Linked DNA regions of Homo sapiens. The protein of the gene in region 7 purifies or fractionates together with the protein of the main gene of each other region. This does not show direct contact. Each region holds a gene or a part of one and is shown on either strand. Other genes may lie near its edges.

Region 1 (3,500 bases), on a different chromosome or scaffold from region 7:
CAGGCTCCTTGCTGCTCACTCACACCCTCTGCACTGCGGCACGTGTTCCCGACACCCTAAGCATCTCTGTACACTTTCTCACAAATCAACCACAACCAGAAAGGAGACCTGATGGTACAGTTTCCATCCCATGTGCAAGCTAAAAAAGTTTCTGCCAGGTCTCACATCCTGTAGCAGGTGCAGAAATGGAACTCCCACACAGTGTTACCCAAAGGATACAAAAGCCTGGATAGCTGAAGGCTCCATGAGGTTCCCTTGGGTTGGTTTTCCTATTTCTAAGACATGGTTTGCACACGCAGGCCTACAGGAACCAAGTAGGTAGCAGAAGTCACTGCAGCAGGTTGGGTGGGGCCAGCAGCAAAGCGAAAGGCTACAGAAGGCTGGGTGTGGTGGCTCACGCCTGTAATCCCAGCATTTTGGGAGGCCAAGGTGAGAGGACTGCCTGAGCCCAGGAGTTCAAAACCAGTCTGGGCAACTTGGCAAGACCTCATCTCTACAAAAAATAACAACAAAAAAAATTAGCTGGATGCAGTGGCATGTGCCTATAGTCCCAGCTACTTGGGAGGCCGAGGTGGGAGGATCACTTGAGCCTGGGAGGTTGAGGCTGCAGTGAGCCATAATCATGCCAGTGCACTCTAGTCTGGGCAAGAGAGTGAGACTCTGTCTCAAAAAGAAAAGGCTAAGGAGGGCCAGGACTCCTCAGCCCCAGCTGGCGTCATGTGGCCCCAAGATTGCCAGACCAGGTGATGTTTCAAAAATCCAATTTTGAAATGATGGCTAACTAATTTTTTTGAATTTATAAACACTGTTTGGGGTAATCACAACCTATCTGTGGCGTGGATGCAATGTGTAGACACTTAGACATAATCTGTTTTCTTTTCTTTCTTGAGCCAAGGTCTTGCTCTGATGCCTAGGCTGGAGTGCAGTGCAGTGTTCATGGCTCACTGTAGCCTCGACATCCTGGGCTCAAACGATCCTCCCACCTCAGCCACCCCAGTAGCTGGGACTACAGATGTGCGCCACTGTGACTAGCTAATTTATTTTATTTTTTGTAGAGACAGGGCCTCTCTCCCTATGTTGCTCAGGCTAGTGTTGAATTCCTGGCCTCAAGGGAACCTCCGGCTAGGATTATACACATAAGCCACCACAGTAGGCCCATAACCTCTTTTTTTTTTTTTTTTTTTTTTTTTGGTGAGACAGGATCTCACTCCAATTGCCCAGGCTGAAGTGCAGTGGTATGATCTCAGCTCACTGCAGCCTCAACTTCCTGGGTTCAGGTGATTCTCCCACCTGAGCCTCCCAAGTAGCTGGGACCACAGGAGTGTGCCACCACGCCTGGCTAACTTTTTGTATTTTTAGTAGAGATGAAGTTTTGCCATGTTGCCCGGGCTGGTCTTGAACTCCTGGACTCAAGCAATCTGCGTGTCTTGGCTTTCCAAAGTGCTGGGATTACAGGCATGAGCCACCATGCCCAGCCTCCATAACCTCTTTTCTATGGAAGAGTGCAGAAGACAGAATAAGACAAGGGGGCAGAACCAGCTCTCTAGCTCCTTTCTGGGTCTCACCTGAGAACCCGTTAGGAAGGCAGGTTCGTGGACCCTAGCCCAAACCCACTGAATCCCGATCTGCATTTAATAAGACCCCAGCTGACTCCTCTGCATGTGCAAATCTGAGCAGCTCTGCTATAAATTTTGTCTAAATCAGTCCTGAGTAGGTGACTGCAGGTAAAGTACATACATACCACACTACACTAGAGCAAACGAAACCCGCACAATACTGACGGCACAGCAGGTCTGTGGAAGGAGAAGGCCCCAGCGAGAGGAAGTCACAACCTTGCCTCCACTTGCCCAAAAAAGGCTTCGTTTGCAACTGGCTTTTCTACAAGTTTCACTCACATCTATTATGCCATTTATTTAATAACATACTTCAAAGGTTGGGAAGGGGCTAATAAAATGGAGGACAAGATTTAAGAGTCAAAATGCAAGTAAATGATTTTATGATCAGGGGAGGCCTAGGTGGCAAAAGGACGTATGCTGGTGGGAGGGGCATTATGATAGTTTCATTACACCTTTACTGGAAGATGGTTCAACTTGCACCTCCTGTCTTTCCTCACTTATAAACACTGCGTGGCTTTACATCTCTGTAATAGCATCTAAAATGAAGTTAAAAAGAAAATTTCCCTCAATTTCCCTCTATTGCTAACCTTCACTAAGAAAGTCCTCAGTGTTAACCAGTGACAAGAGCTGTTCTGTTAATTCAGATTTACTACACATACAATCATAAAAATACTTCTTTAGTAAAACACTGTATTAAATCAAGAATCAGGGCCAGGTGCGGTGGCTCACGCCTGTAATCCCAGCACTTTGGGAGGCCGAAGCGGGTGGATCACAAGGTCAGGAGATCGAGACCATCCTGGCTAACACAGTGAAACCCCGTCTCTACTAAAAATAAAAAAAATTAGCTGGGCTTGCTGGTGGGCACCTGTAGTCCCAGCTACTCGGGAGGCTGAGGCAGGAGAATGGTGTGAACCCAGGAGGCGGAGCTTGCAGTGAGCTGAGATCGCGCCACTGCACTCCAGCCTGGGTGACAGAGCAAGACTCCGTCTCAAAATAAATAAATAAATAAATAAAATAAATCAAGAATCACACGTGCTGTCCCACTGTCCCTCTCTGCCTGTTTACAATGACAACCATCTCTAATAACAAGACCTACATTCATGCAGCACTTACTAAGTGCCAGGCACAATACCAAGCCCTCACACCCCTTGCCCCTTACATGTCTTGCCTCATTTAATCCTCACAACAACCCAAGGAGGTAGGTACTATTGTCATCCTTATTTAACAGATGAGAAAGCTGCACAGACAGGTTAAGTTACTTGTTCAAGTCTCCACAGCAAGTGAGTGGCAGAGCCCGGATTTTACCCCAGGCAGTCGGACTCGAAACCGTTGCTCCTCCTTACCACCATGATGATTATCCACTCACCGCTCCATCTTTGATGAAAGTATGGCACAGATCTGCAATTTTGTTTCTTGACAGTGATATTCTCCTGAGAAAAAGTTCTCCCCGCTCAATCATGATCTTTTTACATTTGGAGTAATCCTAGGAAGAAAAGAGCAAACTGAGGGGACAGGGAAGATCCAGTTAATGCTGAGAATGTCTGTCACTAAACAGAGAAGTGGAAAGGTAACCCCAGGGAGAACAGGCACTTACGGAGTATTCCAGGGAGGCAAGACTGATGAAGCGGAGGAAGAGCTCCCCGCCAGAGGACACTGCCACAGAGGAGTCCACACCACACAGGGTTTCTATGGCACTGGTGAGATTCGCCCTCAGACCCTGGATTGTCTCCCCTGGAATGATCCAACAAGGAATGTGATGTTCACATTAGGGCCACAGCCCCGACCTGTATCTTCAATTCATTCATTCATTCAGTGAATATTTACTAGGTACATACTATATACCAGGCACTATTCTAGATGCTAGGGATACATCAGTGAACAAGA
Region 2 (3,500 bases), on a different chromosome or scaffold from region 7:
TCCTCCGGCCTTTCCCCACAGCTTGACTTCCCGGGCATCGGCCAACACGTACCCTCCCTGTTGCCGGGGCCCCCGCCTGGGCAGGCCTGAGCTCCACACAGGGTGGGGAAGGCCCCGAGTCCCTCCCGGTACCGGGTGGGGCTGGGTGCCGGGGTTGGGAGCACAAGTGTTTCCAGGGCTGTCGGAACAGTGCCACAGGCTGAGCAGCTGCAGCTGCAGACATGGGTCGTCCGTGGTTCTAGAGCCTGGAAGCCTGAGATCAAGTGTGCGTCCACCAGGCTGGCCCCTTCTGAGGCGTGAGGAAGTCTGCTCCACACTGCCAGCTTCCAGGTGTTCCTTGGCTGGTAAATCCCACCTTGGCCTCCACAGGCCGCTCTCCCCGTGTGCGCTTCTGTCTCCGAATTCCCCCTCTTCACAAGGACACAACTCTAATTGGGTCAGGGCCCACCGGTACCATCTCTTCTTAACGAGAGGTGTCACACAGACTCCACACCCAAAGTCACATCCTGAGGAATCGGGGTTAGGCCTCAGCCATGTGGGTTTTGGGGGTACAGTTTAGCCTGTAGTGGGGAGCTAGCCCAGCCCGGCACACCTACATCTTCCCATCAGGTGGCAAAGACCCCGAGGCTCTGGGTGTTTTGTGATTGTGGCCTCCTGAGCACTGGGCCGTGTTTCTGTAATGGGCTTAGAGCTCAGCACAGATGTGCCCGAGACCCTGGTGACAGTGTGAGGGAGTGACCACGCCCCAGCCTGCCACTCACCCCCGTCCACCTGAGGCGCTCTCTGGGCACAGCCTGGTCCCCACAAGCCTGGGAGGCCTCAGCGTCAGGCCCTGCACAGCTACTGGGTCCTTGGCCAGCCCCTCCTGCCGTGGGCCTCCGCTTTTCCCTCAGGTCCGGGTGGCAGGGCCGGGCCACTCAGGTGATGTTCCAGGTCTAGTGGTACAGCAGTGGCTGAGGATGCCGCCGCCTGTGCCGTCACAGAACTGGGGTGGGGGGCAGTGGCCAGGCTGGCCTGAAAACCTTCTCCAGGTTGCGTTGCGGGAGCCCAGGCTGGGAGAGTCGTGGTTCAGTGGTGTGAGTGTGCCTTGGACAGGCCCCAGTCTCCCACTTGTCAGGGGGCAGAGCCCTTCAGGTGGACTTTGGGCGGGGAGGCAGTGGGACTGCAGGGCGAGGGTTTGGAGATGTAGAGATGAGGGAGGCCTGGGGGCCAGGAGGCTGCACCACTGCTGTCTCCTGAGGCGGTGGCTGGCCGAGGAGGCCCGCTGCTCTCTTGTGCTGAGTGCCCCTTGGGTCCTGCAGGCTTGGCAGGGTGACAGGGCAGCCACCCAGGGGCTCCACCTGTCCTGCTCCTTCAGGAGGAGGAGACCTCCCAGGGCTGTGGTGGGGAGGAGGGCCAGCCACAGAGCCACTGCAAATCATCCCTGAGGCCAGGCGACTCGGAAGCAGAAACCCTGAGCCCAGCACGGGGCAGTGGGAGGTGAGGCCCAGCGGCATCTGTGAACTAGGCCTCCTGGTGGGCTCTCAAGGTCTTTGATGGGGCGCAGCCGGTGGACAGGGAGAGAAGGGTCCCTCTTTCCCCAGGCCCTCCCTCCCCTGGTCCTCTCCCACCTTTGAGGTGCCCCAGGAGTTCCCAGAGTCGGCAGCACCAGGGGCTGTCTACCGGGTGGGCTGAATACCACTTAGTTTGCAGATGGGAAAGCTGAGTCCCAGAGAGGGGTTCCCAGGGCTCAGAGCTGAGAGGCCTCGCCGCCTGGGGCCAAGCCCCACACTTGCTTGCCGAGTGACTCACTCCTGCTCTGGGCCTGGCTAGCAGGGGTGAGGCTGGGTCAGAGGATGGGGAGCTGGGCCAAGGCCACAGACTACCCCGCAGGTGCAGGCACCCAGAGGCCTGAGGGGCACCGGGAGCGCACAGGAGGGGAGGCTGTGAACACGGCCCGGCTTCTTTGCAGCTCCGTGTCGGGGCCATGTGAGGACACACACCGCAGGAGGGCCCGGCCAGCCTCAGCCCAGCCCAGCCGCCACGCCCGGTGGGTCTCCTGAGGTCAGAGCCAGCCCCACAGTGGGCACCACATGCCCGCCTGCTGTCCTGGCTCCTCCTGAGGGACAAGGGTGAGCTGGGCGGGCCAGGAAGTACAACGCTGCTAGGCTTCTGCTCTCGCCCCACAGAAGTTCAGGTTCTACTGAGAAACTTGGCTGGGGCTTCCGGGGACTCCCAAATCCAGCCGCCCAGGACCCTGCGGCACTGTCCATCCTGAGCCCCGTCCTCACCCGCTGGTCCATCCTGGGGTGATGGATCTGGCTGCAGTGACCCCGATGCTCTGAGGCCCAGAACAGCACGTCTCCCTCCTGGGAACAGCCAAGCCTTAGGCCCATGCAGCAGCGACCGGATCCCTAGCCTCCCCGGCAGGGGTGCTTCCTGGGTGCGCCATCAGCAGTGGGACCTGTAGGGAAGTCTGTGGCCTGTGCGCACCTTCAGACGATTTCCCCAAACACCGACGACAGCTGTCCAGTGCGTCACAGAGCTGTGGCCTATGGGTGATCGTCTCAGCCTGTCCCTGCATCTGGTGCAGCCTCAGTGCCCACTGTGGACCCCGCAGCCCACCCGTGTCTGGCGCATCCTTGGTGACTGGGGCTCCCTGTGGCTGTCTGATCCCATCCCTGTGGTAACCCATGTGTGACGTCCAAGTGTCTCCTCAAGAACCGGGGCCAGGAGGCCCATCCTTGGCTCTGGAGACTGCAGGGAGAGCATCCCACCCACCTGTGACCATCTACCAGGCCCTGGGGACAAAGCTGATGCCACCTGCCACCAGGGTTGGCTCAGGCGTTTACATGCATCTCCAGTTGTCATGGAGCTTGGGACACACTGGACCCAAGGAGGTATTTTAAAAGGACAAGTCTCTCACGTAATCCAGCCCCACTGTTCCTGAACGCGATGCCCCCTCCCCGAGCCTGGCGGGGGGCTGTACACAGAACACTGCTCAGCATCTTCAGTCTCCCTCCTGTGGCCTCACACCCAGGATGGTAGGTGTTAGAACAGGTGCCTCCCTGTTCTATGTGCGTGGCCTCATCCTGTGGGCAATTTGGGGTGAGGGGTGGCTGCAGGTCAGACAGATACCTGGGAAGGTCCCCTGGGATAGGGTGGCTCCCAAGCGGGAGCAGTTGCCCTGGGCACTTGTGACATCCCAGTGATTGAGGAGTGGGGGTGCTCTGGTGTTTAGTGGGTGGGGCCAGGGAGCCCAGTAATCCTGCAAGATGGAGGTGCCCTTCCACAAACGCCAGTAGCACCCCCAAGAGAAATACTTGAACTGAAGCTATAGGCAGAACCACGCCAGGGGAAGAGGGAGCTCAGGGGAGGGGGCACCACTCAGCGCCAGGTGCTGGGATGGGAGGAAGGGCAGACTGTGGTGGCCAAACACCAGCATGCAGGAGGGTTGTTCTAGATGCATCCATCCTTCTGTGGGTGCACGGATGAGGTTCTGGATGTAATTCATGGGCTTC
Region 3 (3,500 bases), on a different chromosome or scaffold from region 7:
GCGTGGCTGTGGCTGTGGTTCTGCACAGAGCAGGTGGGGAAGGTGAAGATATTAACAATGGAGAGTCCCAGTTGAGCATCACTGGGCTACAAGTCCCTTGCCCTCCTGTCCTTTTCCTCTTGGTAGATAAACCTTCACAGAACCTCAATTCAGGACCCTATCCATTTCCAACAGAACCCCAACACCATGGGAGATGAAGATATAGGATTATTTCTTCCTAGGTTTGTGTGCCGGTTTAGAATTGTCTGTGTCCTACTATGTCTAACATCCCACTTGATCTTGACAACAGCCCTGTGAGCTGGGAAAGAGGGACAGTTTGTGGAACAGATATCGAGGCTCTTACCTTTGGAATAAATAAAATGGGACTCAGAAGGGTTATTCAGCTGTCAGTGAGAGTGGTGTTGGCTTTTTATTCACAACAGTGAAAACTCCATATAAATAGACAGGTAATTTCAGGGCCATGGAGTAGATAGAGCACTCACCCTCAAAGAGCCTTTGAGAGAAGTCTGGTTATCTCTGTCTGGCCAGTTTCTGGCCCTTGCTTCTCTTACCTATGTCTTCAGAAATCTTCATTCCGGCTATTCACCTTCTCTCCCAGTCTCAGTTAGGTACCCTTCTCACAGAAGAGTTCCTCTTCACTGCTCTTGTATCTTGTTAAAAGGCTTTTTTTTCCCTCCTTTTTATTCTGTCCCCAGCCTGCTGTAGCAATGCCTGATCTCTCTTTCTATTTATTGTTCCATGGAGCCAAACCTCCTTCTGTCCCTTTGGGATGACCTATTGTTATACATTAATAATTAACCTTTACTAGGAACTCTAGTCACAGGCATTTAACCCAAATGCAGAAAAAGCCAAAGTTTGTTTATGACAAAGAGTTCTCACATGCTAAGGTATAATAGTGAAGGTTAGAAAGGAGAAGCTGACACTCATTAAACTTTTATGATTTCTTTTCTGGTTTACTCACTTGAGTGATTGCCTGAGGATCCTGCAATATTTCCCTTTGCACATGGTCAGCCCAGTTTAGCTAAAATGAAAAATTCAGCTTTTGAATTGTGAAGTTGAGCATGCATGACTTTCCATGTAATGTTAAAGATAAGCCTCACAGGTGCTGCTAGTGGGGCCTGGTTCTGAGCATATGGACCCTGGGGCCCAAATGCCTAGGTTCAAGTCCTGCTCTGCCACTTATCAGCTGTGTGCCTGTGGGCCGGTTCCCTAACTGCTCTCTGTGTCTGTTTCTGCATCTGTAAAATAAGGCAATGATTACAGGTATCTCAAATGGGTGTTGTCTGTATCTAATGGGATGGAGAGGTGTTAAATCCTTACCATGGTGCCTGGTGGTAGGTGCTTAATAAGTGTTAGTATCATTATTTTCAATGTTATTGACTATGGTTAGGTCCACGGTCAAGGTTACATAATAGTGAGTCATTTTCAATGCTTCGCCATAGTTATATATCACTCTTGTAATATCCATTAGAATGCAAACAGCTTTGCTTGATTCTCTCCTGGTGATGAGAGATGGGAACTAATTCTACATTTAAATATTGGGGATTATATGATATGTGCTGGAGTGACCCATCCAATTAACTTTGTCTCACAGATATGGACAGATGAGGCTTATTTTAGAAATTAGCCATTGTTGTTTTGGAGATGATAATGCAACCTTTTCAGGGCTGTGGAAATAGCGAAATGAGATTAACAATAACCCTCCAAATAGCTGCGACTTTTGTGCCCTTATGATATTGCATTCCTAAGTGCTTCACATGTTTTAAATCATTTTATTATTACAAAATAAATAGTTTGTTTATTCCTATGTTCCCAATTTCAGGAGAGGAAACAGACTCAGAAAATTTACTTTGCCAAAGTCACATAGCTTGTAAGTAGTAAATGTGGAATTCAAACCTAAATCTGGGTCCTGACTTAGAATTTGAATAAGGTAATATAAAGAAAATAGGAAAATAGTTGGGACGCTCAATACTCAGATCCTTGTCTATTTCCCTTCCATTGTTTTCTGCTTATTAAGTTTTTATGGATACGACATTGCTCAGAGATCAGAGCGCCAAAAACCATTCCAGGGTACTGTATCAAATTTCAGTTCAAATAAGAGTAAAACTTTTTTGAAATTCTAATTTCATGGAGAAAGATTAATTTCTGCTTTTAGATGGATTATACCTGGTTTAGAAAGTCATAACAGATTTTTTTCCCATAGGTTATTGGGGTTCAGGTGGTGTTTGGTTACATGAATAAGTTCTTAAGTGGTTATTTGTGCGATTTTGGTGCACTCATCACCCAAGCAGTATACACTGCACCCTATTTGTAGTCTTTTATTCCTCACCCTCATCACACCCTTCCCCTCAAGTCCCCAAAGTCCATGTATCATTCTTATGCCTTTGCGTCTTCATAGCTTAGCTCCCACATATCAGTGAGAACATACAATGTTCGGTTTTCCATTCCTGAGTTACTTCACTTAGAATAATAGTTTCCAGTCTTATCCAGGTCACTGCAAATGCCATTAATTCATTCCTTTTTATGGCTGAGTAGTATTCATATATATATATCACATTTTCTTGATCCACTTGTTGATTGATGAACGTTTGGGTTGGTTCCACAATTTTGCAATTGGAAATTGTGCTGCTATACACATGCCTGTGCAAGTATCTTTTTCTTATAATGACTTCTTTTCCTCTGGGTAGATACCCAGTAGTGGGATTGCTGGATCAAATGGTAGTTCTACTTTTAGTTCTTTAAGGGATCTCCACACTGTTTTCCATAGTGGCTGTTAGACAGTCATAACAGATTTTTTTAACTGCCATCCTCACGTTCTCCACCTACCTACCCACTCTGCAGGACAGTGGCCATGGCTTTGCAGAAGTGTACACTAACCTTGGGTAGGGCATGGAGGCAGAAAGCTCTGCTGGACCCCCTTGCAAGGTGAATTAGTATCTGGTTCAGTATTCTTTGTAAAATCAGACTCTCAACTAAATCAATGTCCTTGACTGACTGGCTGAAATAGGGCTTCAGGGTGTCTCATTCTACCACTGTACAGAGGGCACATGCAATGTGCAAAAAATAAAAACAAAAACAGACCTCTGTCCCCACCAGCTTTTAACACTTACTCTTTTCTTTCAAGTAATATATCCACATGGTTGAAAAAAAGTCTAACACTGTAAGAGGGCACAGTGAAAAGTAAGTCACCCTCCCACTCCAGAATATTAATCCCGCAAATATACTCCCCAATGACAATTTTATAGTTCCAAAGAGACTTTATGCTTACTGGAGCATATATACATATAATGCCCCCACGCCCCCACACTTTTACACAATGATAACATAATGCACCCTCTATCCTGTTCCTTGACAATTTCACTTAACAATGTGACCTGGAGAGCTTCCACATCAAAACCAAAAGCAATACCTTGTTTGCAAGGCCTGCCTAATATTCCATTATAACGCTGTGCCATCTGCTATTGATGGTCATTTAGGTTGTTTCTGGTATTTTACTAAGG
Region 4 (3,500 bases), on a different chromosome or scaffold from region 7:
CAAATATTTACTGAGTAATATATTTTCCTTAGGATAGACTTATAGAAATGGAATTACAGGGTGAAATTATATGAATATCTTCAAGTCTTTTGCTATAATGTTGCCAATTATTTTTCAGAGATTTTATCAGTTTATACTCCGACTCCCATTATGTGACAGTAACGGTTCTCAAAGCACTCTTATCAGTAATGAAAATTGTTTTGAATCAGTTAATTTAGTTGGAGGAGAAATTGCATCTTATTTTAGTTTTTTACTTCTTTGAAAATATTTTATATGTTTTTTTAACACATATCTGTTTATTAAGAATATTCTTTGCCCTATTCATAGCAATTATTTTGTCTTTTTATTTGGTGGGATTGTTTGCTAGTAGTCAAGTCTATTGTTCTCCTTTGTGATTGCTTGAGAAGAGCTTATGATTTCATGAGATAAGACAGGTGTTTCTAGGAAGGCTGTGTATAAGAGGGAAAGGAGAAAGTAAGGTTGACCAGGGCACTGTATCCAGCAAGTGGCCTAGGCCCAGGATGTTCACAATGGTTCACTGTAGCTTTGTAACATTTCTTGGCACAGCTCTGAGCTGCCTGCACTTTAACTAGGAAGCAGGAAGAGTAATTGTTTCCTTCATTATGTTTCTAAGTCAACTGCATCATGGGGATTGACCTAATGTTGAGCTCCAGCAGAGGTGGGTGGGACCTGGCAGGGCTGTTTCATAGCCTCTCTTCAAATCATGGATCCTCTCGAAGGTTCTGCCTGATGGGGCCATGTGCCAAGGCTCGTCTGCTTGCCTCTTGCAGTGACAGTTCTTTTTGGTCTGTAATGTAAATATCATGGCCCTGAAATCCCCTAGCTGTCCGTGCTTTGTCACTTCTTCAAAGGGAACTGACTTGTTTTCCAATGGAGGAGGAACATTTGCTGCCTACACTGGTTTGAAGCATTAAAAGGGGAGAAAAAGAGCTAAGAGTAAGTGTTGCTTCATTCTTTGTATTCACATGGAAATTTTTAAATCTTCATCAAAGGATCAGGAGAAAAATCACATTGAAATTCAATACAAGAGCTCACAGCTTAACACAGAATTTTTCAAAATTGATTCTTTAAAAATTGCAGAAACTATGAACTGTGTAGCTCCAGGGTTCATAGTTTTCCTTACCCTCCTCAGCCTCTGCCTCTGTCTTGCCTTCCTTTCTACCTACACTCCATCTGTTTGGTTTTGTGTCAGCATGCAGAGCTTTGAATGGGGGCTGGGAGAGGTGGTGGGAAGTATGCAGCAAGTCAGGTTTATAGAGCTGCCCATACTTTCACCCCTCTCTCAGGCCTCATTATCTCATCTCTCAGAATATTGTAACTGGTCTCCCTTTCTTCAGTTTCCTTATTCCAGGCTTTCTTCCACATTGCTACCAGAATTACCTTAATAAGAGATAAAACTGTTCATGTCACTTTCTTGCTTAAAAACTACCACTGGCAGCCAGGTGCGGTGGCTCACACCTGTAATCCCGGCACTTTGGGAGGCTGAGGTGGGAGGACTGCTTGAGTCCAGGAGTTCAAGACCAGCCTGGGCAACATAGTGAGACTTTGCCTCTACAAATAATAAAAAAATTAGCTGGGCATGGTGGCACATGCCTGTGGTCCCAGCTACTTGGGAGGCCAAGGCAGGAGGATCACTTGAGCCCAGGTAGTCAAGACTGCAGTGAGTTGTGATTGCACCACTGCACTCCAGCCTGGGCAGCAGAGCAAGACCCCGTCTAACAAGGAAAAATTACCACTGGCTTCTCAGTCCAGACTTTCTAGACTGCTACTGTAACTCCTCAGTGGGTTCATCTTACCTGCTGCCGAGATAGAGACGATTTATCAAGATGGGAGAATTGCAATAAAGAGTTTAATACACATAGAGGCAGCTAAACGGGAAACCAGAATTTTATTATTACTCAAATCAGCCTCCCCCAGAATTCTGAGGCTAGGGTTTTTCAAGGATGGTTTGGTGGGCAGGGGTCTAGGGAATGAGTGCTGCTGATTGGTTGGGGATGCAATCATAGGGGTGTGGAAACCAGTCCTCTGCTGAGCCCAGTTTTGGATGGGGGCCACAGAGGGGTCACTGGTCCCAGTGGAGTCATCCAGTCATCAGAAATGCAAAAGTCAGAAAAGACATCTTAAAAAGCCAATCTTAGGTTCAACAATAGTGATGTTACTTACAGGAGTAACTGGGGAAGTTGCAAATCTTGTGACCTTTGGAAAAATGATTGGTAATCATGAGAATTCAGGCCCCTCTTGTAATCCTAAATTTGTACGCTTTTATTAGTTTTATAAAGGCAGTTTCATTTTGAGAAGGGCTATTATCATTTAAACTATAAACTGTAATAAATTTCTGGCTAGGCATGGTGGCTCACACCTGTAATCCTAGCATGTTGAGAGGCCGGAGCAAGCGGATCACCTGAGGTCAGGAGTTCAAGACTCCTGACCTCAGGATGGTCAACATGACGAGACACCATCTCTACTCAAAATACAAAAATTAGCCAGGCATGGTGGCCGGCGCCTGTAATCCCAGCTACTTGGGTGGCTGAGGCAGGAGAATCACTTGAACTGGGAGGTGGAGGTTGCGATAAGCCAAGATCGCACCGCTACACTCCAGCCTGGGCCACAGAGCGAGACTCCATCTCAAAAAAAAAAAAAAAAAAAGAAAAAGAAAAAAAAGTCAGGCACAGTGGCTCATGCCTGTAATCCCAGCACTTTAAGAGGCTGCAGCAGGCGGATCACTTGAGGCCAGGAGTTTGAGACCAGCTTGGCCAACATGGCAAAACCCCATCCCTACCAAAAAATACAAAAACAGCCAGGCATTGTGGCATGTGCCTGTAGTCCCAGCTACTTGGGAGGCTGGAGCACAAGAATCACTTGAACCCAGGAGGCAGAGGTTGCAGTGAGCTGAGATCATGCCACTGCACTCCAGCCTGGGCGATAGAGCAAGACTGTCTCAAAAAAAAAAAAAAAATTAGCCAGGCATGTGGCTCTCACACCTGTAATCCCAGCTTTCCAGCCACTCAGGAGGCTGAGGTGGGAGAATCACTTGAACCTGGGAGGCAAAGGTTGCAGTGAGCTGAGATCGCACCACTGTACTCCAGCCTGGGCAACAGACAGAGTGAGACCCTGTCTCAGAAAAAAAAAAAAAAAAGTTTTCTCCCAAAGTTAGCTCAGCCTATGTCCAGGAATGAGCAAGAGCAATTTGGAGGTTAACAGCAAGATGGAGTTGATTAGGTCAGATTTCTTTCACTGTCATAATTTTGTCACTGTTATTTTTGCAAAGGTGGTTTCACCACAAAAAGCTTTCGTGATCTGGCCCCCTTGCCTACCTGATTAGCTTAACCTTCTGCTTTTCCTCTTAAACTCATACAGGCTACTGTCCATTGGATTATGAATTCCTTGAAGTCAGAAATGATGTATTTCCAAGGCCTAGCACAGTAACTCGCATATGCTTGGTAAATGCTACATAAATTAATTAGCAATATAAAATTCTA
Region 5 (3,500 bases), on a different chromosome or scaffold from region 7:
AAAGTTCAGTAATCAAGAGTATAAATATTCTCAGAGTAGTGAAATTATTGCAAAGCATGGTGGAAGATGGGAATTTTCCCTTTATTTTTATGTATTTATTTTTGGAGATAGGATTTTGCTTTGTTGCCCAGGCTAGAGTGCAGTGGTGGGTCATGGCTCACTTGCACCCTCCACCTCCGGGTTCAAGTGATTCGCCTGCCTCAGCCTCTGGAGTAACTGGGACTGCAGGCATGTGCCACCATGTCTGGCTAATTTTTTTGTATTTTAGTAGAGATGGGGTTTTACCATGTTGCCGAAGGTGGTCTCAAACTCCTGAGCTCAGGCAGTCTGCCTGCCTTGGCCTCCCAAAGTGCTGGGATTACAGGAATGAGCCACTGCGCCCAGCCCTTCCCTTTATTTTAATGTGGAGGGGAGAACCAGTGGGTAAAAGTCTTAGGCTCCACCTAAGGAAATACTTCTCACCTTCAGATCGGAAAAGAAAATGGTCATTTGAACAGGGAGTGAGGCCCACGTCACAGCCACGAGGGTGTGCGCTTGAAAGAACCCTCAGAAACCATGACATGGTCAGGAGTGGGGTGTGCGGTGAGGCCAGGTCTCTCCAGGACCCAGTTCTGCTTGGCACCAGAGCCTTTTAATTCTCCTCTGAGTTGGATCTTGTTCCACCAGGGAGGTTGAGAGGTTGGCCTTTTCTTTCCATATTAATTTCCTCCTCAGTCATCAGACTGATGACATTCTGACCCTGCTGTGTAGTTTACAAAGCATATCAGAGCGTGTTGTGGGCCAGCCCAGGAGAGGAGCTGGTCATATCATTCATGGTGCATGTGTTGGGGAGGGGTGCTCCGGACGGCCTGGGCTGGTTTGGTGCTTGTGCAGTGGGGGTGGGGAAGGCTCTGGCCATGGGGAGATGCATTGCCCCTGGGTGGAATGTGGGCTGGCAGAGCCCCTGGGTTTCCCTCTCACCTGGTGGCCTTCACCCACAGAGGACTCTTTCATGTCCACTATTGGCTCTGCTGCTTCTGGCTGCTGGTGTCCTCTCGTAGTGGCTGCTGTGGGGCCATTTCTCTCTCAGACTTAATTTCATGGGAGCCACTGTAATAGGAGCAAAATCCCCAGGGTGTGGGGTTTGTATTGCAGACTGTGGCTCCAAGAGGCATCTCCAGGACAGAAGGGGCTTTGATATCTTCACCCATCTACACAGGCCTGGGCATTTCCTTGAGTCTCAGTGGGAGGGACACCAGCCATGGGATTTCCTCCTCTTTCCCCGTTTACAATAAAACCGTACTATGGAAACATCATATATGCATGCACCCGGTGCACTTCTGCAGACAGTGGGCTGTGTCTAGCTAAACCCAGCCTACTCTGCTCCAGCTGTTCCCCGAGAGGATTATAAGAGAGGTTGCAGACCCACCTGGATGCTCTGACCTCAGTCATACTGTGTGCCCCAGCTAGGGTAACAAGCCATCCTTCAGTTTGCATAAGACTGAGTAAATTCCCAGGATGCAAGACATTCAGTGCTGAAACCAGGACAGCTCCAGGCAAATTGGGACACTTGGTTATTCTACCTCGGCTGTTCTTCCTCCAGGCCTGCCACTCCATTGGAGTTTTGAGTCCAGATTTCTAGAATGTGCTGCATGCCGAGGAAGTCTGTCGGGGGGCAGGTGAGGGAGAGTGAGATGTCTTCTTTTCTTTTTCTTTTCCTATTCTTTTCCAACACATGCATTCACAGTCTTCACTGTGGCTAGCACAGGAGCCTCCATTGGCCAGCGCCGTATTTCCCTAAGCATTTGGTCTTGGCCCTAGGAACAGAGCTTTTGCTGTCTTTATTTGTCATCTCAAAGTGCATGGCCTTAAACTTGAGGTTCCCCACAGCACTTCACACTCAGCTGACTGCAGCAGGGCACTCTCTTCTGGTCATTTGTAAAGAACATCCATGGCTCCTGGACAAGACTCTTGCTTAGTAGTTGGCAAATGAGCAGAAGTATCCCCCTCCCTGCAGCTGATGTGTGTACCTGGGGCAGTTCCCATCCAAGTTCACATTACATCAGTGTTGGGATTCCATGTGTCTTGGCTTAGGAATCTTGGCACTCAAAGTAGGGGGCTTAGGAGCAAAAGAATCACACCTGTCCTGGAAGGAATGAGGGGGGCCTATCTGCTTGACTTCAAGGGACTCATTTCACTGTTTTTGTTTGTTTGTTTGTTTATTGTTGTTGTTGGTTTTCTGATGTGAAATGGAACAGGGGCAAATCTTTAAAGCTGGTGGAGTCAATTCCACAAACAAAACTTCCCTTCCTTTCTTAAGAGCTTTTTGTAGAAATCAGCCTTGCAATTAGCACTGCAACGTTCCAACCACTTAACACACTTCCCCACTGGCCTTTTGAAGCAAACAAGTATTTAGAAGCTGACAGGACAAAGTCACTTTATTTCTCCTTTTCCTTTACCTTGAAATTGTTCCTAGCCACAGGGCTGGCCACTCCTCACTGTCCAAAAAACTACCCTGATGCAGTATGCAGTGGCAGATCAGTTTAGTAAGGAATAACCCAAGTCACCGAATGCAAGAGAATGAAAACAAAAACAAAAACAAAAAAAACACCCTGTTGCATTAACGCAAGTATTCTCTGGGCTCTGTGTCTCTGGACGTGCATCTTCCAGAACCTGCAGGCGCGTGGCCTGCCCTCCACCTGCGTGGGAATGCATGCTGGATTTACATCCCAGTTACATCGCTTCCAGAAAGACAGGATCTCTGTTGGATGCCCATGAAGCTTATACTGAGTAAATATTGACAAAGTAGTCTAAAGAGCAAACACTTTGACATTTGTAAGGTCCACTGGAAGGTCTTGTATATATTTATACATCAGGAATGAGCACCGCATACCAATTTTCCTGAACTTGTTGTGACATAATTCTGCATGGAGAGTGTGTGTGCACAGGTGGCTGAGAACGGCTGAGTGTTCACATGGGGGACAGGGCTGGGGGCTGGGTGGTAGCTGGTCAGGGTATTTCCTCTCAACTGGAACGAACCCACACCTATCCCTGCCAGGAAACCTACCTCTAAGCTTTTCTGAGACCTGCTTTTCCAGAAGGAAGAAAGAAAAAAAAAAAGCCACAAAATCTTGTTTTTCCCTTATTACAATGGACGTACTTTTCTTTTTACTTGGTAAAAATTTTATTGATGTTTTTATACTTTATATTTATTAAAGATTGAGCCTCAAAAATGTAATGAGTAAAAAATGCTTGCTTAATTTAAATTGTGAATCTGTCTGTTAAGAAATGCATTAGGGGTAGGAGAAGCATAAGACATATTAATTGACAGACAGGAACTGCTGTCTCTGAGGTTGATACAAGTAATTTATTACTTTAGAAATGAATGCCACCTCCAGAATGTGCTTCATTAATTTCAAATTTAGTTTTAATTTCAAGCTGTTGCCCCTTGAGAAGAATAAGGTGGCAAATTATGTTTGAAGAGCAGATTTTTTTTTTTTTTTGCTCCAAAGAAACACCAC
Region 6 (3,500 bases), on a different chromosome or scaffold from region 7:
AAATGAAATTATAACAGAAAAAAAGAATCTGGCATATTACAGTGAAAAGCTCCTAGGAAATCAGCATCTAAGAAGAGAAACTCATTATTATAACAGGTTTTTAGGATAATGCAGAGGAATGGAAGATTTCTCCCAATTTTACTTTTCATTTCAACCTTCTACTTCTAAGCACTACTGAACAATGGAATGCAGACAGAGACAGAGTTCTAGGTTTCTGCTTTCTCTGTATATGAGACTACATAAGGCTGGTCTTTATGTTAAAAGCAAACAAATGACAAAAACTAAAATTACATTTTGCCCAATGGTGCTGTTAGCCTGATAAAAGATTTTGCAAAGCTAACCAACTCTTTACATTTCTATTATAATCAGAGAGCTTTTAATACAAACTTTTGGGGTTTAATACAAAGGTAAATTTTATTGCTTCCACAGCAATAAATACTTCTCCAGTAAAATTACAACTCAAGAGAAATAAGCCCATAAAATTATTATGTAAGTAGGCCTGAGTGTTAGCTTTAGGAGGAAAATAATACAAATGTGAAAATAGTAACTAATAATAGCTATCATTGTAGGTGATAATACACAACACTGTGTTTTATATATCCTTCCATAGAAAGGTAACATTTAGTCTTCCAACAAACAAGTAACTTGCTACAGGTCACTCAGCTAGTAATGTCAAAGATAAATTACACATCAAAACCTGTCCAAAGTTAGTACTTACAATATACCAATGATGTACAAATGAAAATGATCAATTTATTTTATCAGAGAGGCACCAATACTATGATTCATCCTACCAGAAGGATATTAACCTGACCTCAAGAAACAATAAAGTATAGCACTTTACAATAAAGTATACCACTTAATTGAATACTAAACTGGGTGGCACAGAATGTAAATGGTAGAGAAGCTAAATAAAGGCCACCACTAATCTATGAATATTTCTTAAGATGGGTGAGACGTAAGTGTTGCATAGTTTAGAGGGAAAGAGGAAAGAACAATGGGGTAAGTAATTCAGAATGAAGTAAAAAACCCTGGGCAAGCACCAGGAAAAAAATAATGCCCGAGGAAACAGCTAAGAGAATAACTTTATAAGAGCAGCGATTCATTAGGTGGGGATCTCTAAATATTTGCTATCAGTATTACGTAACTACTTAAATTGCTTCTACTTATCCAAACTAAATTATTTTATAAAATTTTACATACCTTTCTTAATAGCTTTGTACTTCTCTTCATTCTCCATAAAATTAGGATCCATCTTGAAAACATCTAAAAAAAATGTAAAAGTTAATGTTTATTTTCTATATTTACATTTGTTGGTAAGCCTCTTTCCAACTAACATGCCCCGGACTTACTAAGAACATCTTCTGGATTATAGTCATCCTCCAGAGGGAGCATATGAGTGAATTGATCATCTTCTTCCACCAAATCAAGACCTTCTAGGATAATGGGGTGGTCCTTGAATCCATCTTTCCGTACAGCAAACATCACTTCAATCATATATTGAACTCTTTTGTCAATTTCAGACTCATGCAGAATGTTTCGAAGGCGTTCAAATATAGCTAAAAGTTAACAGAAAGAAAAGACAATAAAATAAGCAATAAATATAATAAAAACTTAACATCAAACTATGAATGTACACTTACCATTGATTCCTCTTGGTGACACTTGTGTTAATTTGAGGCCACATTCCTTAAGAAAACCAATAGCTACTTCAACGCTATCATCTGTTGGTCTTTCCAGGAGCAAAGTGAGCATCTCTAAGCATAATACTTCGTGTGCCTTAAATAAAATACATATACAAGGAAGAAACAAAATGCTTTTACATACATTAAATTATTTTTATAATTTCTAAAAATTAGTAAATCTGTTTACAATAATTATATTGCACATATGATGGGCAAAGTTTTATAAAGCACATGGAAATACTCCAAATATGGGATACAATTTTTCTATCACTTTTATTATCTGTCTACTAAGAATTTTCAGATGACTGTTTCAAAAATCTTAATTTTCTATGCTGAATACAACTATTTGAATTATCTTCAGAAGAAATATTCTTAGCCATTATGTACGGAAAGTGTCATAGATAAAATATGTTAAAAATCATATACTACTTTCTAATAAGGTAATTATTTTCATAATTACTACATAAGAAATAGTAATATGATTTATAATACCCTTCTCCATGATCACAATTCTTTATATACATTTCCCAATTCATTCTATCAGCAACTCTATTAGACACAAATAGTCCTTAAGTTACATGAATACTAATTTTATCACAAAATATCTTAACAACTTCTGGAACACAACAGTTTTGAATAGTCTATCTTTTTTTAAAAAATTAAATCAAACTATTACTGGCCACGTTCAAAAACTGACATTTATAAACAATGCCAGGAAGAGTGGGAATAAAATTCTATTGAGAAGTTTGCTAAGAGAAGAAAACGAACAACAAAGAATGTTTAAAACACCATACATATGCCTTTCTAAAGTCAGACAGTGATTTAAGATGGTGAGGAAAGAAGTCTAAATCTCAACTCAGGAGATATCTTCTTCCAGCTGTGCACAACATCAAAGACACCCACTACTTCTTTTTACTAGGGGAGGAGGGGTGTCAAACAGTCTTAGGTCAGTGACAAGAAAATACTGCCCTGTACCACAGCTGGAAGATGCAAAAAATTTATCATATCGAGTGTTTCATGGCAATGCCAAAAATCTCTAGTCTAAGTGTAATACACATTTAAAAACGGAAATATATCTCTGGTTACAGATGTGAAATTAAGTTTCCATGGTCTTAAGTAGCAAGTTATCACTGTAATAATATGATGACTAATTAGGTCAAAATCTAAAAGATTTGTAAGAGTGAAAGAATTTTCATGTAAATAAGAATCAAAATATTTAATATTAGTGAAATAAGACTAAGCATGACTTTAAAATTCTTCCTGTTATACATGATATTAAATTGGAAATGATAATATATATCTGAAGGAAACTTTTGAGTATGAGCAAGGACAATTTTAGCATTTTCATGGTTAAATAAAAGCTAAATCAAAACCATCAAATAATGAATATAAAATAAACACAAACTGAATAACAGCATGATAAAATTACCTGCATTTGAAACAGATTAAAATCGATCAACTCTATTCTATCAAGTGATTCTAAAAATATATGACTATACCTGTGTGGTTGCAAGGAATAGAGGTTTTTGTAGAATATCAGATATTTATTAGATTCTCATGAACAGCAGGGAATGAAGTGGAGGAGATACCAACTTTATTGTTTTATAAAAATGAAGGGAATGGTTCTTCAAAGGAATGGTTTGCAGTCAAGTAACCATGTACAGTATTAAGTCAGATTAATTTGATAAATATCTAAAGTGTTTTGATCAGCATCAAAGTGTTATATTAAAGAATATTAAATATGGCCAGGCGTGGTGGCTCACACCTGTAATCTCAACACTTTGGGAGGCCGAGGCTGGTGGATCACGAGTTCAG
Region 7 (3,500 bases):
CAGAGCACAGCACTCTCACAAATACACCCACACTGCCTTTCAGAGGATGGAGAACAGGAATGCTCCTGGGATACTTAGAACTAAGGCTTGAAGGAAAGTAAGAGCTAAGGATACAGGATAGGGGCCAGAGGACATCAAACAGAGGGAAGAATGTTACCGGGCACAGAGTTGTGAGGGAACGTGGGATATCCAAAGGTTCTAAGTAATTTTGCATGCCTGGAGCCAGGCCACGATCAGGGGAAGCTGACCAGCAACCCTCCTGAAGAAGGAATGGAGCTCAGATCATGAGGGAACTTGTGTGTCATGACACAGAGCTTGTGGTTTGCCTGGGGTTGGATGGGCCCCGTTTGAGAGCCTGGCGGGAAGCTGCTGCCGTGGCTGCGGGCAGAAGGGCGGGAATGGCACACAACAGGCAGACAGACAGACACGGATGTGCAGCAGAGCACAAGGCTGAGGCACAGGGACTGCTCGCTGACCAGAGGCAGCAGGTGAGGGAGAACACGGAGTCCTGGGCGCCTTCACGACCCCTGCCTTGAGTACCACAGTAAGATCCCTGAGCGAATGACCGAGTTGACCTGGAATTCAGTTTATCCATAAAATAATGATATTTAATGTTCCTCCCTAATTTCCATCTGATAAGAGACAAAAACAAAATTGAAACTCCTTGAACTTGAAAGAGAAAAGGTACATATTATTTCCAGAAACATTCAGGACTCAGAGGAGAAATATTATAGACACAGAGCTTCATTATAAAGAGCCTTTTTATATTATGCAGTTTTCCCACATGCTGCATCCTACAAATCATGCCAGATACAAACACAGAATATCTTTCTTACACTAAAATGAGTATTATGGTGGGATTCTTAGTTTCTTAGTTCTCTAAACATATGTCATCTTCATCTTCAATAACTTCCATACTTTTCAATATAAAAGCCACCAAAAGCCACATAGGTGGCTTTTACCAGTGAAAGGTGAAAGAAAATAACTAGAATATGTGAAACCCCAAATGTGCAAGTGGGTGTTCAACCAAAGAATTCCCGTGCTCAAGCACCTTTCCATCATTTCCAAGGAGCGCGTCTATGAAGCCGAAGTGGGTCTTTGCTGCACATCCACTGGGTTCAGGACACATATAAAGCACAAAGAGGAAACAGTAGACTGCTAAACCCTTTTTCAGTCTTGAAGATGTTTTTCTGTCTTTTTCTGTCTTGAAGAAGTTCTCTGTACTTGGTCCTATAAATGGCCTTTCGCAGATCTATTGGGAGCTGGTCTGACCCAGGATATGCAATGGGGTTGGCAGGCTGGTCACAGAGCTCCTCAATAAGGCTGCCTCTACTAAGCCCCTCGGCTAGTCACACTCCATAAGCCAGAAAGCAAGCCCCCAGGAGGCAGGGGAGGTCCCCCAAACAGACGGACCACAGTCAACTCTATGCTGAATATCATTGTTCTCAATCCTTCTAAAAAATGAATCATGGACATAAACATAGCTATCAATTTAGGACTCAAAGTTGGCTGGGAAAAAGTCACCTTACAGTGTACAAAGATGTATTTAACCAGGCCACAGAGGCATGTACTGACTACTGTGACAGTTGGTTAGCAGCGTATTATTAATAGAATGGACAATTTGACTTTACTAATGAAGCACCAGGAGGCTCTGACTATGCTGGTCACAGCTCCACAGCAGTGCAGGTTCCTCTTGCACACCAGGAATGCATGTTTCCCACTGTCCATTTTACAGGCAAACAACACCCATAATCCCTCAGATGATGGCTGTTTAGTCAATGAAAAAGGTGATGAGAAAAATCACTAGTTGAATGCTAGGACCCAGTATGTGTGACACTGGGCCAAATTTAGATGCCCCTGTTTGAACAAGAAGGCGTTTTCAAATAATTGACAAATACTTATCAAACCAGGTAACCAGAGGAAGAAGTAATGAATGATTTCTTTCTTCCCTGGAGCAGGTTTGTTCTCAAGGGAGCTGAAACAGCCCCAGCTTGCCATCCTGATACATCTGTGCTTATCTTTATTTCCTCAGTAGAACCATATCTTTGAAATTTCAATTAACCCTGAGCTTTCATCTTCCCCCTCCTTTCCAATGATTTTATTTCTCCCTGCTCCAGAAATTTTTCCTCAGTCTTAACCTTTCCTCAAAGTAGCCAAGGACAGTGTATCAGATCAAACACTCCTCACTTAACAATATACACATATAATTAGTATCTGTGTGGCTGCATCTGGGTGGCTCCCCTGGCTGTTTTTGAAAGTGAGCTTCTGGAAGTTCCTCTTTGGTACATCCACTGTGGGCACATTGATTTAGGTCACCTCTCTGTATAAGCTGACTCTAGAGAAGACTTGACCTACAGAGAAGTCACCTCCAATTGGTGATCATCTCAGCACAACTTGACCCATTCCAGTCATTGCTAGTGGCTACAATTAAACAGAATTCCTAGGTAAGCCCCTTTTCATTCAAGGTGTTGATGATTATTAAAATAAATAAATATTAGAGGGCAAAGGTGACATTTCAGCAAAAACCAAAAGCTGTTATTCTAGCACCAACTAAATCCCCGAATATGGTAAAGGTTTTGTTCTGTTTCTGCCCAAATTAAAGGCTAAGAAAACACTTTAATTACTTGAACGAGTAAATTAGGACCATGGAAGGTACATGTCCTCTGTGAAAAATCACAAATCCCTCCAAGTGGGTATCTAGGGATTTTCTTAGATGCTAAATAAATGAGTTTTGGGGGGCCTTTTATTTTTTTTTCCTTTTGCGGCTAGAAAGAACCTGTCAGTTCATGTCAACATGTCCGGTTATGCAAAAATGAGATGATAATATCTCAAGAAGTGTTAGCAACTCTATTAGCAATGAAATACATTCTAGAGAAAAAAACACACAGGCTCACTTCTCAAAGCATAAGTAAAAATACTTTGGAAGATATTTTGCTGAGGAAGAAACTTACTGTTTTACACATGTTAGGATAACAGTAAAGTTAAAAGGACCAAGTACTGCATTACAGAGGCAAAACTGGGATTGTCTCCTTTGTTTACCAATAAAAATAAGAGAATGGCATAGATGGCTTCCAGGGTGGCTCCCAGCAGAAGGTACAGGAGCCTTGAAGGCCGACAGGGCCCTGTTCCACAGGTGGAACCTGAATAAGGATCCAGGCTTCCTGTGGCCCAGTCATTATCCATGCCCTCCAGGGAAAGGCCTCTGTCCTGACTCCTGTCCCTCAGTGTGGGCAGCACGAAGGACGGCTGAGGGGCCACGTGCATCTTTTCATTAGAATGCATTATGAGGAAGCTATAATTCTGATATTAGTGTTCTAAAGAAAAAAGATTTAGAACTAACATTTCTTTGGGCTTTTCCCTAGGCAATACAATGATAAATGATAATACTTTCTAGTATACCTTAGTTTATATAAATATATCTTAAATAACATGTCAGAAGCTGCTGCCTAATAATTAAAATGTAAAATACTTAAAATATACTTAAGAATAAATTTTCTACC

Evidence for each region.
Region 1: the proteins of GPR183 (region 7) and EIF2B1 purify together in Homo sapiens (affinity purification with mass spectrometry; 3 studies listed by BioGRID and IntAct, with this or other methods). This does not show direct contact.
Region 2: the proteins of GPR183 (region 7) and GPC1 purify together in Homo sapiens (affinity purification with mass spectrometry; 3 studies listed by BioGRID and IntAct, with this or other methods). This does not show direct contact.
Region 3: the proteins of GPR183 (region 7) and NRXN3 purify together in Homo sapiens (affinity purification with mass spectrometry; 3 studies listed by BioGRID and IntAct, with this or other methods). This does not show direct contact.
Region 4: the proteins of GPR183 (region 7) and EIF2B3 purify together in Homo sapiens (affinity purification with mass spectrometry; 3 studies listed by BioGRID and IntAct, with this or other methods). This does not show direct contact.
Region 5: the proteins of GPR183 (region 7) and TSHZ3 purify together in Homo sapiens (affinity purification with mass spectrometry; 3 studies listed by BioGRID and IntAct, with this or other methods). This does not show direct contact.
Region 6: the proteins of GPR183 (region 7) and CWC22 purify together in Homo sapiens (affinity purification with mass spectrometry; 3 studies listed by BioGRID and IntAct, with this or other methods). This does not show direct contact.

The regions. Positions count from the first base shown.
Region 1 is NC_000012.12:123,627,187-123,630,686, forward strand, and holds part of EIF2B1 (translation initiation factor eIF2B subunit alpha), read right to left. Parts: intron 3,348-3,500; coding exon 3,211-3,347; intron 3,100-3,210; coding exon 2,983-3,099; intron 1-2,982.
Region 2 is NC_000002.12:240,442,163-240,445,662, forward strand, and holds part of GPC1 (glypican-1 precursor), read left to right. Parts: intron 1-3,500. UniProt on the Homo sapiens protein: Cell surface proteoglycan that bears heparan sulfate. Binds, via the heparan sulfate side chains, alpha-4 (V) collagen and participates in Schwann cell myelination.
Region 3 is NC_000014.9:78,705,373-78,708,872, forward strand, and holds part of NRXN3 (neurexin 3), read left to right. Parts: intron 1-3,409; exon of another isoform or gene 3,410-3,500. UniProt on the Homo sapiens protein: Neuronal cell surface protein that may be involved in cell recognition and cell adhesion. May mediate intracellular signaling. Functions as part of a trans-synaptic complex by binding to cerebellins and postsynaptic GRID1.
Region 4 is NC_000001.11:44,882,096-44,885,595, reverse strand, and holds part of EIF2B3 (translation initiation factor eIF2B subunit gamma), read left to right. Parts: intron 1-3,500. UniProt on the Homo sapiens protein: Acts as a component of the translation initiation factor 2B (eIF2B) complex, which catalyzes the exchange of GDP for GTP on the eukaryotic initiation factor 2 (eIF2) complex gamma subunit.
Region 5 is NC_000019.10:31,279,937-31,283,436, reverse strand, and holds part of TSHZ3 (teashirt homolog 3), read left to right. Parts: intron 1-3,500. UniProt on the Homo sapiens protein: Transcriptional regulator involved in developmental processes. Functions in association with APBB1, SET and HDAC factors as a transcriptional repressor, that inhibits the expression of CASP4.
Region 6 is NC_000002.12:179,969,298-179,972,797, forward strand, and holds part of CWC22 (pre-mRNA-splicing factor CWC22 homolog), read right to left. Parts: intron 1,780-3,500; coding exon 1,644-1,779; intron 1,560-1,643; coding exon 1,353-1,559; intron 1,267-1,352; coding exon 1,204-1,266; intron 1-1,203. UniProt on the Homo sapiens protein: Required for pre-mRNA splicing as component of the spliceosome. As a component of the minor spliceosome, involved in the splicing of U12-type introns in pre-mRNAs. Promotes exon-junction complex (EJC) assembly.
Region 7 is NC_000013.11:99,300,900-99,304,399, reverse strand, and holds part of GPR183 (G-protein coupled receptor 183), read left to right. Parts: intron 1-3,500. UniProt on the Homo sapiens protein: G-protein coupled receptor expressed in lymphocytes that acts as a chemotactic receptor for B-cells, T-cells, splenic dendritic cells, monocytes/macrophages and astrocytes.